Regions from separate parts of the Homo sapiens genome. Here regions 2 and 3 are each reported to be linked to region 1. Evidence: microRNA targets listed by miRTarBase, many of them from high-throughput screens and not tested one by one. Region 1 holds a microRNA gene; each other region holds the end of a gene's coding sequence.
Evidence for each region. Region 1 holds the annotated microRNA hsa-miR-548at-5p (AAAAGUUAUUGCGGUUUUGGCU, at 2,278-2,299, opposite strand). A microRNA usually pairs through its seed, bases 2 to 8, with sites in the 3' UTR of a target mRNA and lowers its output. Matches are read on the target gene's strand: a 7mer-m8 pairs with bases 2 to 8, a 7mer-A1 pairs with bases 2 to 7 and ends in A, and an 8mer does both.

Region 2: miRTarBase lists SPIC as a target of hsa-miR-548at-5p. Seed matches in the 3' UTR shown: 8mer at 3,431-3,438.
Region 3: miRTarBase lists C1orf21 as a target of hsa-miR-548at-5p. Seed matches in the 3' UTR shown: 7mer-m8 at 2,276-2,282, 8mer at 165-172, 8mer at 149-156 and 7mer-A1 at 56-62.

Annotation. Positions count from the first base shown.
Region 1 is chr17:42,493,072-42,497,071 of GRCh38, reverse strand. It overlaps MIR548AT (microRNA 548at), which reads right to left and starts at 2,299; the gene lies at 2,242-2,299. ATP6V0A1 (ATPase H+ transporting V0 subunit a1) reads right to left here. Exons shown (of 22, transcript NM_001130021.3): 12 at 2,599-2,738; 13 at 1,884-2,038; 14 at 1,356-1,446.
Region 2 is chr12:101,485,996-101,490,349 of GRCh38, reverse strand. It overlaps SPIC (Spi-C transcription factor), which reads right to left. Exons shown (of 6, transcript NM_152323.3): 6 at 3,353-4,006. The coding sequence ends at 3,579. Among named protein-coding and RNA genes, the nearest start is that of SPIC, 13 kb to the right of the region's middle.
Region 3 is chr1:184,618,798-184,623,151 of GRCh38, reverse strand. C1orf21 (chromosome 1 open reading frame 21) reads right to left here. Exons shown (of 6, transcript NM_030806.4): 6 at 1-3,634. The coding sequence ends at 3,596. The region is part of intron 2 of LOC107985236 (a long non-coding RNA gene); the gene reads left to right. Among named protein-coding and RNA genes, the nearest start is that of EDEM3, 130 kb to the left of the region's middle.

The DNA.
Region 1 (4,000 bases):
CCTCGGCCTCCCAAAGTGCTGGGATTACAGGCGTGAGCCACCGTGCCTGGCTTATACATTATGATTGTAGATATATCTCTTGAGTCTCTAAACTACAGGTTCTCCTTCCATCTTTCCTTTTTCATTCATTACAAAATTTCTTTTGAAGAAATTGGGTTGTTTATCTTATATATTTTCCCACAGTCTATGTTTCGCTGATTGTAGCCCTGTGGTGCTGTCATTCCATCTATTTTTTTGAGATGGAGTCTTGCTATGTCCCCCAGGCTGGAGTGCAGTGGCACGATCTGGGCTCACTGCAACCTCCTCCTCCCGGGCGCAAGCAATTCTTCCACAGCCTCCTGTAGCTGGGACTACAGGCATATGCCACCGTGCCCAGCTAATTTCTGTATTTTTAGTAGAGATGGGGTTTCACCATGTTGACCAGGCTGGTCTCGAACTCCTGACCTCAAGTGATCCACCTGACTCTGTGTCCCAAAGTGCTGGGATTACAGGCATGAGCCACCTCGCCCAGCCTGTATTATTTTTTTTTTTCCTCAGCAGTCAGATGCCCTGTATTACATTCTTGCCGCCACTCCATTTTTACAGCACACAATAAAGAAGACTTGATCATACTTAATTTGCCTAAGCATTTGAAAAAAAAATTAATTCTCGGATAAGTTTTTGTAAGTTCGTAAATATAAGAATGCAAGTCTAAAATCCACAGGAAAAATATATTTCTGCTTTGCTAAAATGTCTGCTAAAAATAAAAAACCAAACTAAGTAAGCAGAAATAAATTAAGAAATGGGAAGGAGTCTTGAAAAATCAATCTTCCCAGAGTCGATATTATTAACCACCTCAGAAATAAGCAGCGCAGGGAAAAGTATGTGGCTCCTCAAGGCACTTGGGTCTCTTATGGCTTAGAAGTCCTCTGAATACATACATCAAGGTTTCCCAAAAATATGTCAACGAAAACCCACATAACTATTTTTGTTTGTTTCTTTCTTTCTTTCTTTTTTTTTTTTTTTTTTTTGAGACGGAGTCTTGCTCTGTCACACAGGCTGGAGTGCAGCTTGCTCACTGCAACCTCTGCCTCCCAGGTTCAAGCGATTCTCCTGCCTCAGTCTCCCGGGTAGCTGGGACTACAGGCATGCGCCACCACGCCCGGCTAATATTTTATTTTTAGTAGAGATAGGGTTTCACCATGCTGACCTCAGGTGATCCCACCTCCTCGGCCTCCCAAAGTGCTGGGATTACAGGCATGAGCGACCATGCCCAGTGAAAGCCCACATAACTATTTATCTTCATTTTAATTCTCTTGCTTCAGGGTTAGTGTTAAAAAATTTGAGGTTAGCATATAGGAAGGAAGTCCTCTTACTGGATCAATGCCAAAAGGGTATGGTCCACCAAACACTCCAGGGAGGGCTGGGTTCAGCTGTAGAACAGGGTTCCCCCGAAGCGTCTCTTCACTACCATGACAGGGAAAAAGTCACATTATTTTTGAACAAGAGAGGGAAACAACAAGGGTCCAGAAACTGACCCCAAAATAAATTACTGTAGCTATCTTGTCTCTTCAATAAAATGGGAGGGGAAAAATAAAGAGGAGAGACTAGCAGCTGAGACTGAGGGATCCAAAATGACAAAAAGAAAAATTAAACACACAAACACACAATCAAGTAGGGAACTGGGGAATCTGGTTTTAGTTTCCAAAAAAAAAAAAAATCATTTCTAATCTTAGTTCCTGGATACTTGCTGAACAAATCACAAAGCAACTCACAGTGTGGAGCATGAATGAGGAGACACTGTCACCACTTCCTAAAGAAGTGTCAGTTTACCACTTGTCTTAAAAATCAGGGCTGCACATGAAAGGAATAAGCTTTGAATTTTAGCTTCTTCTGCAACTTACGTCCAATTATAAGTAAACATCGGCCGTACACTCCAGGATGACCCAAAGATATTAAGAGACTTGGAAAAGCAATCATTGTAGATGAGGCCAGTGTACATGGAGAACACACCCATCAATAAAATAATGTATCGACCACTGAACACAGTGCTAAACATCTGGGAACCAGAAGAAAGAAGTAATGAGAATGTACTCACTGCAGCTCACATTGTGACAATGTTATTCAGAATATACCTGCCCCTTTCTCCAGCACTACTTTACCCCATCCTGATTCAGAGAGCTTGAAGTAAAAACCAAAATACAATGCTAATGAGACAGTCACTTTCACAGGATGTGGCCTCTATTTTTTTATTAGGTTGGCACAAAAGTTACTGCGGTTTTGGCCATTTCTTTTGGCAGCCAAAACCGCAATAACTTTTGCACCAAACCTAAATAATTTTTATTTTTTTAGAGATGGGGTCTCACTATGTTGCCTATGCTGGTCTCGAATTCCTGGGCTCAAGTGATTCTCCTGCCTCAGCCTCCAAGTAGCTGGGACTACAGGCACACACTACCACTTCCAGCTTGCACATGTCGTCTTTGGTGTTAAAATGAACATAACTTCTCTACTTCCTTTTGATAAATTCATGGATAAAAGACTTCCAGATCATAATTTTCATAATGAATGCTTGGGAAATTATAAAATTTCAGTTCAATGCAGATGTAACTTAAACATTACCTCATTCTCATTCTTCTGGGAAAGGATCCGGCTCTCCCTCAGTACCATCCACACAGCAAAAAGGGTCATTAAAATGCCATGACCGAAGTCTCCAAACATCACAGCAAATAGAAAAGGGAACGTGATAATAGTATACGGAGCTATGAAGAAACCAAAAAAAGAAAAATACAAAGTACATTAAACCATAGCAATTCCACAAATATTACATTCTTTTCCATACCCACCCCCCTTTTTTTTTTTGAGATGGAGTCTTGCTCTGTCAGCCAGCAATGTCTCAATCTTGGCTCACTGCAACCTCCATCTCCCAGGTTCAAGTGATTCTCCTGCCTCAGCCTCTTGAGTAGCTGGGATTACAGGTGCCCACCACCATGCCTAGCTAAGTTTTGTATTTTTAGTAGAGACAGGGTTTCACCATGTTGCCCAGGCTGGTCTCCGACTCTGACCTCAAGTGATCCACCTGCCTCGGCCTCCCAAAGTGCTGGCATTACAGGCGTGAGCCACCGTGCCCAGGCTTCCATAATCTTAAGATCAATATAAGGTGACTTACTCCCCAGCTGCCAGACAGATAGGACTCTCAGAGAAAATCTTTCATGGCAGAATCAACACATCTTCACAAAGTAGCTAATGAAATTTGAGCTACTGATAACTTTTTTTAAAAGAGAGATGGGGTCTTTCTCTGCCACCCAGGCTGGAGTGCAGTGGTTTCATCACAGCTCACTGCAGCCTGCAACCCCTGGACTCAAGTTATCCTCCCACCTCAGCCTCCCAAACAGTTGGAACTACAAGTATGTGCCACCATGCCCAGTTAATTTTGTTTTAAAATTACTGATAAATAATATTTTTTTAGATGGAATCTCACTATTTTGCCCAAGCTAGTCCTGAACTTGTGGCCTTGAGCAATCCTCCCACCTCAGCCTCCTGAATATCCGAGATTACAGGCATGAGGCACTGTGCCTGGCAGCTCTGATAACATTTCAAACAAAGAACAGTGGAAATGAAGGTGTAACCTTGACAACATTGGTTTGTTCTCTGACTCTCTTGTAACTCGTGGGACCCTGCTCCCAGGGCAGGCCAGCTGTCTTCTCTTTGTGCAGCAACCATGTCCCAGTGATATAAAGCTAAATATCAGATAACGTACAGATGGAGAGAGCCCAGAGCAAAGCAGTTCTTCCATAGGGCTCCAACTGAAAATGAATACTCACACTCTTGATTTAATAATTAACTCTCCAAATATAGGAGAAATCTGTGTTGTACCTAAAGTGGCCAATACTTGCTACATTTTTTCTGTCTAACCTTGGAACAGGGAAGCCAAAAAAAAAGCCATTTAAAAATATCAGACATCTTAGAAGAAACATTTTGCTTAAAACAGTTCCTGCAAATGATTTGCTAGAGAAGTCCAGGT
Region 2 (4,354 bases), not on the chromosome of region 1:
GTGGCATTTTCCTTAGGCTGTCATCTGTTGAATGCCACATGGTTACAGATCATGAGTGGAAGTGCAGAGAAAATACAGACTCAAGATACCCACTAAAGTTTTTTTCTTTTTTATTGTAAATTGACTATTTATAATTGTATAGATTTATGGGTTCTGTAAAGAGAGAGTTGTGTGGGGAAAAAATTTATGGGGTACAAAATGATGTTATGATTTGTGAACGCCATATGAAATAATTCAGTCAAGCTAGTTAACATACCCATCACCTCAAATACTTAACTTTCTTTGAGGTAAGAACATTTGAAGTTTACTTAGCAATTTGAAATGTACAGCACTCTACTATTAACTATATTCACCATGCTGTGCAATAGAATGCACAAAAAGAGAAAACATATTCTCCCTGTTTGAAATTGTATACCCTTTGCTCATCACCTCCCCATCTCCCCCTCCTCCAGCTTCTGTCACCACAATTCTACTCTCCACTTCTATAAGTTCATTGTTTTAACTCCACATATAAATGAGAACATGTGGTATTTGTCTTTCTAGCCCTGACTTATTTCACTTAGCATAATGTTCTCCAATTTCATCAATGTTGTCACAAATTTCAGGATTTCCTTCCTTTTTTTTTTTGAGATGGAGTCTCACTCTGTCGCCCAGGCTGGAGTGCAGTAGTGCCATCTCAGCTCACTGAAACCTCTGCCTCCAAGGTTCAAGCCATTCTCCTGCCTCAGCCTCCCAAGTAGCTGAGATTACAGGCATGCATCATCACACCCAGCTAATTGTTGTATTTTTAGTAGAGATGGGGTTTCACCATGTTGGCCAGGCTGGTTTCAAACTCCTGACTTCAAGTGATCTGCCTGCCTTGATCTCCTAAAGTGTTGGAATTACAGGTGTGAGCCATTGCACCTGGCCAGAATGTCCTTCTTTTTAAAGGCTGAATAGTATTCCATCATGTATATGCAATACATTTTTTTAATCCATTCATCTGTTGATAGACAGAGATTGATTCCCTAACTTGGCTATTGTGCGTAGTGTTGCAATGAACATAGGAATGCAGATATCCCTTCCACAAACTGATTTCGAGTCTTTTGCATTAATACACTGAAGTGGGATTTCTAGATCATATAATTCTATTTTTAGTTTTTTTTCGGGGGGGGGTGGAATTTCCATACCATTTTCCATAATGGCTACACCAATTTACATTTCCACCAACAGTGTACAAGTGTTTCCTTTGCTCTACATCCTTACCAACACTTATCTTTTGTGTCTTCATTTGAAAACATTGTTTTGAAATAAAGTACAGGATGATTAAAAACATAATAATAAACATTTTAAGACGTTGTGACAGGTGAGAGATTATATCTTATTGTGGTTTTAATTTGCATTTCTCTAATGATTACAAGAAGAAAGAAAGAAAGAGAGAGAGAGAAAGAAAGAAAAGAAAGAAAGAAAACATAGGGGAAACATATAAGACATTGGTGTGGGTAGTGATATTTTGGATTTGATCCCGAAAGCATGGACAACAAAATTAAATATAGACAAATGGTATCACATCAAACTAAAAAGCTTCTTAGTTCATGACGTGTAGCTAAAACAAACAAACTAAAAAGCTTCTGCACAGCAAAGGAAATAATCACCAGAGTAAAGAGACAGCCTATGGAATGGGAGAAAACATTTGCAAGCCAGACATCTGACAAGGGTTTAATATCCAATACATATAAGGAACTCAAACAACTCAATAGCAACAAAACAAACAAACAAAAAAGCAATTAAGACCTGCTTTCTGCTGACAAAGTCTTCTTCCTTACCCCTCCCTAATAAGAAGGAAGAAAAAAGGCAATTAAAAAAATGGGTAACTCCTCCTTAGTACAGTGGTAAAACTTAAACATTAAAAAAGTTTTGGGGCCAGCTCGGTGGCTCACACCTGTAATCCTAGCACTTCTGAAGGCCAAGGTGGGCAGATCACCTGAGCCCAGGAGTTAGAGACCAGCCTGGGCAACATGGCAAAACAGTCTCTACAAAAAAAAAAAAAAAAAATTAGCTGGGCTTCATCCATGTTTGTGTCACTGCACCTGAGCATAGGTGACAGAGTGAGACCCTGTCTCAAAAAAAAAAAAAAAAAAAAAGCTTTAAGTTGTAAAAATGGGTAAGATCAAAAGAGAAGGAAATAAAAAAATGTGTAAGGAAGCTGAACAGACATTTCTAGTGATGTTTTTAAAGCTATGAACCCATTTTGGCACAAAGGCTTTATCATATGCAGTCATTTACAAAATTTTTTTGTAAAGCCATCATATAAAAGTGTGAATTTTCTCACCTGAGTACATGACAAGAAAATGCTGAAATCAATATATAAATCAAATCATCTGTACTGGCACTGTTAATCTAGAAGAAGGTGGTTGCATAGAGAATAGCAAGAATTTAAACCAGCTTATTGAAGTGTGAAAAGAAAAAAAGAGAGAGCTTCAGAGGTAGGCTTTGCCTCTTAAAAAAATTAAAAATAGCCGGGCGCGGTGACTCACGCCTGTAATCCCAGCACTTTGGGAGGCCGAGGCGGGCGGATCATGAGGTCAGGAGATCGAGACCATCCTGGTTAACACAGTGAAACCCCGTCTCTACTAAAAATACAAAAAAATCAGCCGGGCGTGGTGGCGGGCACCTGTACTCCCAGCTACTCGGGAGGCTGAGGCAGGAGAATGGCATGAACCCAGGAGGCGGAGCTTGCACTGAGCCGAGATTGCGCCACAGCACTCCAGCCTGGGCGACAGAGCGAGACTCCGTCTCAAAAAAAAAAAAAAAAAAAAAAATTAAAAATATAAGTCACTGTCAGTGTTGTGCTTGGGAGTTAGCAGCCAAAAACAAACAAACAAACAAAAAAAGAAGTCATCGTCTGTGAAAAGAAAAGAAAAAAAGAAAAAAGAAAAAGACTTTGCATCCATTGAAGTATGCAGCAAAAGAAAACAATTTTTAAAATAAAATAAAATGGGTATAGTTGGGAGCTTAGCAATGGTCATACAGAATGGAGTAATGGACACTGGAGGCTCTGAAAGGTGGGAGGATGCCAGGGGGATGAGGGATGAAATCCTACCTATTGGGTACAGTGTTCACTATTCTGGTGATGAGGATGCATATTTCACCACTATGCAATATATCAAAGCAACAAAACTGCACTTGTACTCCTAAATCCATAAAAATAAAAAATTATCTTGGCTGAGACATCTTTAAAAAATAATAAAATAAAAAAATAAAAATTTTAATAGAGAGAGAACAGTAAGAGCAGAGCAAGGACCTTAGTCTATACTTTCAAATGGGCTTGATCATTTGAAACAATAAAGTTGTTCATTGAATCTTCACAAAGTATTATAAAAAAGTTGTTCATTGGCAGAATTTCCCAACAAGTTAGTATAGATTACATACTCTTTGATAAAAGCAACAATAAAGTTAATTTTTTTTCCTCTTTAGTATTTGCTTTAAGAGAAAAATCCTAAATTTCTTCAGAGGAGGAAAAAAAGAGAGGGAGGGAGAAATCATTAAAACTTGTAGAGATTTCCGATGCCAGTAAACCATGAAATATGAAAGTATATTTAGCAATCATGGTGATTTAGCTCATGGTAATTGGCATATGTATAATTATAATTTGCATTCCAGTTATTTAAACTGAGATATTCTTGATCAGGTTGAACACACTGTGAATAGAAGATCTCTTTCCCCAGGAAATAGGATGGAGAGAGTCTTTGGAGAATGGCCTCACTGAACTGGTAAGTCAGCTTCCTCCGGATTTTGGTAATTTCCCCACTTCTTCCGTAATTTCTGAGTGCCCTGGCCATTTTCTGGTAAGTCATGGTCTTCCTGTTGCCTTTTCTTTTCCCCCAAAGCTCGGCAAGTTTTTCTTTGTTTTTTGATACAAACTGAAAGATGCCTTTGGTTTTATCTACCCACTGAATACAAGATGCCATCTCCGGATTATACAGGGATTCGTGAAGGTATTCAAACAGTCGGAGCTTCTTCCTGCCTAAAATGAAGGGAAACAAGGTCAAACTCCACCGTGGCTGTAAACCGAGAACATCCTCAGAAAGGGTTTGTTGAGCAACTACTGAATTAAAAGCTGCATCGAGACTGGTTTTTCTCCCACTCACTGCCCTTACGAATGCATGATGGCATCATTTTATGGGATTCGAAGGTAGAGGATCTATTTGGCCTATTGAAGTTTCAACTGGATCTTTCTTTGTTGGAGAAGTTGTTAAGAATGTTGCCTGGCCGGGCGTGATGGCTCACGCCTGTAGTCCCAGCACTTTGGGAGGCCGAGGAGGGCGGATCACTTGAGGTCAGGAGTTCACCAGCCTGGCCAATATGGTGAAAT
Region 3 (4,354 bases), not on the chromosome of region 1:
AGTGTCAAAGCAGGACTTGTAATCCACATGCCAACCTGCTTCACAGGCTATGAGGTAAAGTTTGTAAGAGGTATCATCTCTGTTTTTTAGCAGGCTTATGGAAGAGTCTTGCCCTAACAGAAAAACAGGGATGAGGCTGGGAAGAGGATAAAGTTATAGCAGGATAAAGTTATAAGAAGATAACAAAGCAGGATGACATCACATGGGACCAAGAAGGGGGCTGCATCATCCCTGGACCTGCTCCTGGGGGCTGTCGGATTGTGGGCGTGGCCGCTTTGGATGCCCAGGTGAGCCCTGACACAGAGGTGCTTCCTCACATTACAGTGAGGAGAGGATGGGGCCAGTACAAAGACTGAAGAACCAGCACTCCTCCTGGGTCCGTCTTTGCTAAGTTGAGTCATCCCAGCCCAGGCTCAGATGATGGGCACTGTGGACGGAGAGAGACCTGTCTTCCAGCAGGCTTCTGTGTGCGTGGCTGCTGCAGTTTCTGAGGGCTGACCCAGTTTTCTCATCTCTGGACTTTATACCTTCTTTGTCCCTAAATAGACCACAACACCACTCTGTGTTCTCTGCAAGCCTGGGGCTAGGAAGCATCGCTGAGGTAAAGGCCTTTTTTAAGGTTCTCTGCCAATAACAAACACGTCTTCAATTATGAGAGCAGTACTCCATGATCCTGAATCTCTGCCAACCAAAAGAAAGCTGTGCACACACTGCTGAACTTTTACAACTCTACAACTCAGAGGACATAAGGCATGTGTAAGCCAGCTGTAAATCTCGTTGACAGTCTTGCCCCACCCACTGGCCACTAGGCAGCTGGATTTCCAATTTCACCCCGGACACGGCCAGCCTATCAACCCTCTCTGCTTAATGCTCTCAGTTCATTTCTCATCATTTTTCTACCTCCACTCACCAGGCCACTTACCCTCCCTTCCTCCTTCCAGCTTCCTGAGCCCTACAGAGATAACAACTAGCAGAGTGCACCAGCACGTACATTGGATTATCCTTTTCATTGTGTCTGAGCCAATCTGCTTAATGTTCAGATACACGTGGGGAAAAAAAGGCAAAATATTTTTGTTTTAGATCCTTTCAGAAGGCACAAAAAAATAAAGTACAAACACGAATCACTTGACAATTTTATGATTAAAACCAACAAATGGAAAACAGACAGTGTTGGGTGTTGCTGACATAATCAAGCATTTCGTGCGGACCCACTCAACCACCCCATTTCTTGGATCTATTTCTGGATGTACCAAATGTGTCTGAAGATGAACTCACTTTCGCACATCAAAGATGTATCCAGTGTTAAACACCGGAGCCAGAACCCAGGTGAAAATCTGCTGGTTCAGGGCAACACCACTTCCGGCTTTATTAAACACTCAAAAGTCAGGTTCCCAAGAAACGCTTGGATCTATGCGCAAGTATAACATGTCAAAACTGTTAAATGTGACCATGAGAAAAATGACATGAGCATGTTTCATCTTTGGGTAGAGGGTGGTGGTTTTCTGGGAAGACACTGTCTGAGACACCGAGTAGAGAAGTCAAATGGAAGACGTTTAGCATGTGCTTAATTCTTGCTTGATAAGAACAAGAAATCCCGGAAAAGGTCACCCACAGAACGGTAAGCAAAGTCCCCAGTGAACAAGTTTGAGGTGGGGCTTAGCAGTTTGTTTACAGTTGTGGAAAACTGTTTTAGTCACTTGGCCAAAAACCATATGAGGGGAGGCAACCTGAAACCCTAGACTACTTGACTCTCCCTGCATTTTTCTGCTAGAAGCAGGATAAAAGGCCTAAAATTTTGGCTGCATCTCTATTTATGTAACAGCCACAGCTGCTCCCCAAAATAGCTGCTGTTGGCCAAAAGAATTACGGGATTTTGTTGCTAATATGTGAATCTATAGTCAATAGCACTCTGCTAAGTTTCCTTCCCTTCCCTTTTGCCGTCCCAGGTCTAAAAGGAGATAGGGAATCTCATTATTTGCACATCAATGGTGCCATCAGTTGGATGTGGATAGATTTTAAAATCGAGGCTCATCTTTTCGGCAAGAGCAAATTGACATAGAACATCTTAACTCTCCACCTTCTGCAGGCGGCAGTGTGGCTAATATTGAGGCCCTTCAAAGTCACAACTCCAAAAGAGAGGAACATACAGTGCTCCTGTGATTTTGTGGGACAAACCCAGACCCGGACTGCTGGCGTGGCATTTAATAGGATGCCCTCCCCTGAAAGTAACAAAGAGAACCCTCGTCAAAGCTATCAAACACATTAAAAAAATACAAAAGTTATTTTCTCCTTTTGATTGCTATTTACTTGTGACAATATTTGTTAAAAATATCACTTCTGTCTTTGAGAAGAGATCATTCTCTTCATATAGTATGGAAAAATAAACTCTGCTGAACACTCAGTCAACATTCCCCACCACTGCCAGGGGCTTTTGGCTTTCACATCTCCAAATACCATCATCAGCATAAAAGTATTATGTTTTTGAGTAGGCAAACACTTTTGCTATGTCTAGTGTGCTGGAAGTAAGAGAAAAAGGAAGTGGCAAGGCTCATGTAGCATTTTGAAGGGGGAGAGTTACAAAATAGGATGGTTTATTTGCTAACAAAATGAAAGGTAACAAGGTGGTTTCAGGCCTTCCTAAAAAGTCATAGGATGTCCCCTCACCTCTTAGACCACTTTCAGCCTTGCTAATGCTTGGTAGATTCTTAATGGAAGGGTAGGGAGCCCTATAGGCTAATTATCAGTGTCAATGCAAAGGAGGGCTCAACTTCTGCACCCAGGATCATCTTAAAACACTGAGCTGGATGAATGGGAGAAGACAAGGATCCATAAAAACAGTAAAATGTTTATTTTCTTAGAAAAAAAAGTGAGGAAGAGGGATTCAAAATGATTGTGATCACACTTCCATCTGCATCTGAGCAAAGCCAATGTTGCAAGCTTAATTCTTGATTAAGATACCTATTAAATCAAACAACCTGCCACTCACTCCTACGTCACTTCCAGGAGTCACATCACAGCATGCTTTTAATTGATAATAGCTTCTCTACTTCTTCTGAGCAGAGAAACAAGGCTTGGCATAGCAACCATCCCATCTCCAAAGCTCAACACTGCCAGTGAGAAGCAAGGCTCAGTCCATCTCTAGACTGCGTGCGAGAGATGGGGAGGAAGGAGAGAGGGCAGGAGATGCTTGTCTTAGAAGCAGAACCAGTTTAGAAGAGAAGTTTGTTATCTGAGTTCACCACTACCTCATCTTATAGAAAATAGGTTGGAGAGCATCTGTAAAACCAACAGTATCTTTAAGGTGAAATTGCAGAATTTTGCTGCATACCTGGACACAAGAGAAGTGAAAAGTTGCAACAAGTTTTAACTAGCAGCAACAAAGAAAGTTCGATAACAGTTTTTTTTGTTTGTTTTTAGCAATATTCCTTTGCAAGTTCATTAAGAAACACTGTAATTTAATGGGGCGTACAATATGGAACGATCTTCTTTTGCTATAGTGCTGTTCGCTGAATAGAACCGACCTTTGCAAAGATTTCAACTGGGGTGTAACCTATTTACACAGTAGTAGCTCCTGGTTTGAGTGGTAAAATTGGTGCTATGTGATATCCTCTTCTTCCGAACAGTAATCCCGACCCTTGGAGGGAAAAAGAAAAAAGAGCATGTGAATGAGAAATTCAAAGCAGAGCCTGAAATAGTTACTTGTAATCAATTTTCTCTCAATATATGTCTCCTTGCAACAGAATCCAGGCTTTGTCAGTGATAGCTGGCACAGGGGTAGCTACGTCATAAATACATGTTAGCCAATTTATAAGCTATATATACTTCAAGGCATGACAGTTTTACCAAGCCCCAAATAAGCCCTTACTTTATGTTGGTAAGAATTTATATTATAACAGCCATATTCAAGAGTCAGCCTTTCACTAAGAAATTACCAAATGGCCAATCCATTCAGGAGATCAATTTCTTATCAGGAAGAATGAACAAGCCACATTCTACAGCTACATCCCCGTGCCTGAAAATCAACATTCTACAGACAGCATACAATCCAGGGATGTCTGAGTTTAATTCACTCTAAAACGGATTACAAAAAACAACAAACAAGAATCCTTAAACACGCATAACAGGTCTGTGCTTGGTATGTGTGGGATGCACAAGAAAGGCAAAGATGCTTCTGATTCATTTGCTAACTAAAACAGGTTATCTGAAGCTCTAAGGACTATGTACAATGGTTATTTGTGAACATATTTTATCCTCTCTCCTCTAGGTCATAAACTCAATGAAGACATGATTGGGGCTGGGCTTTAAGGATCCACATTTAACCGAGCTGGCTTGTCTTGGTCAAAACACATGACTC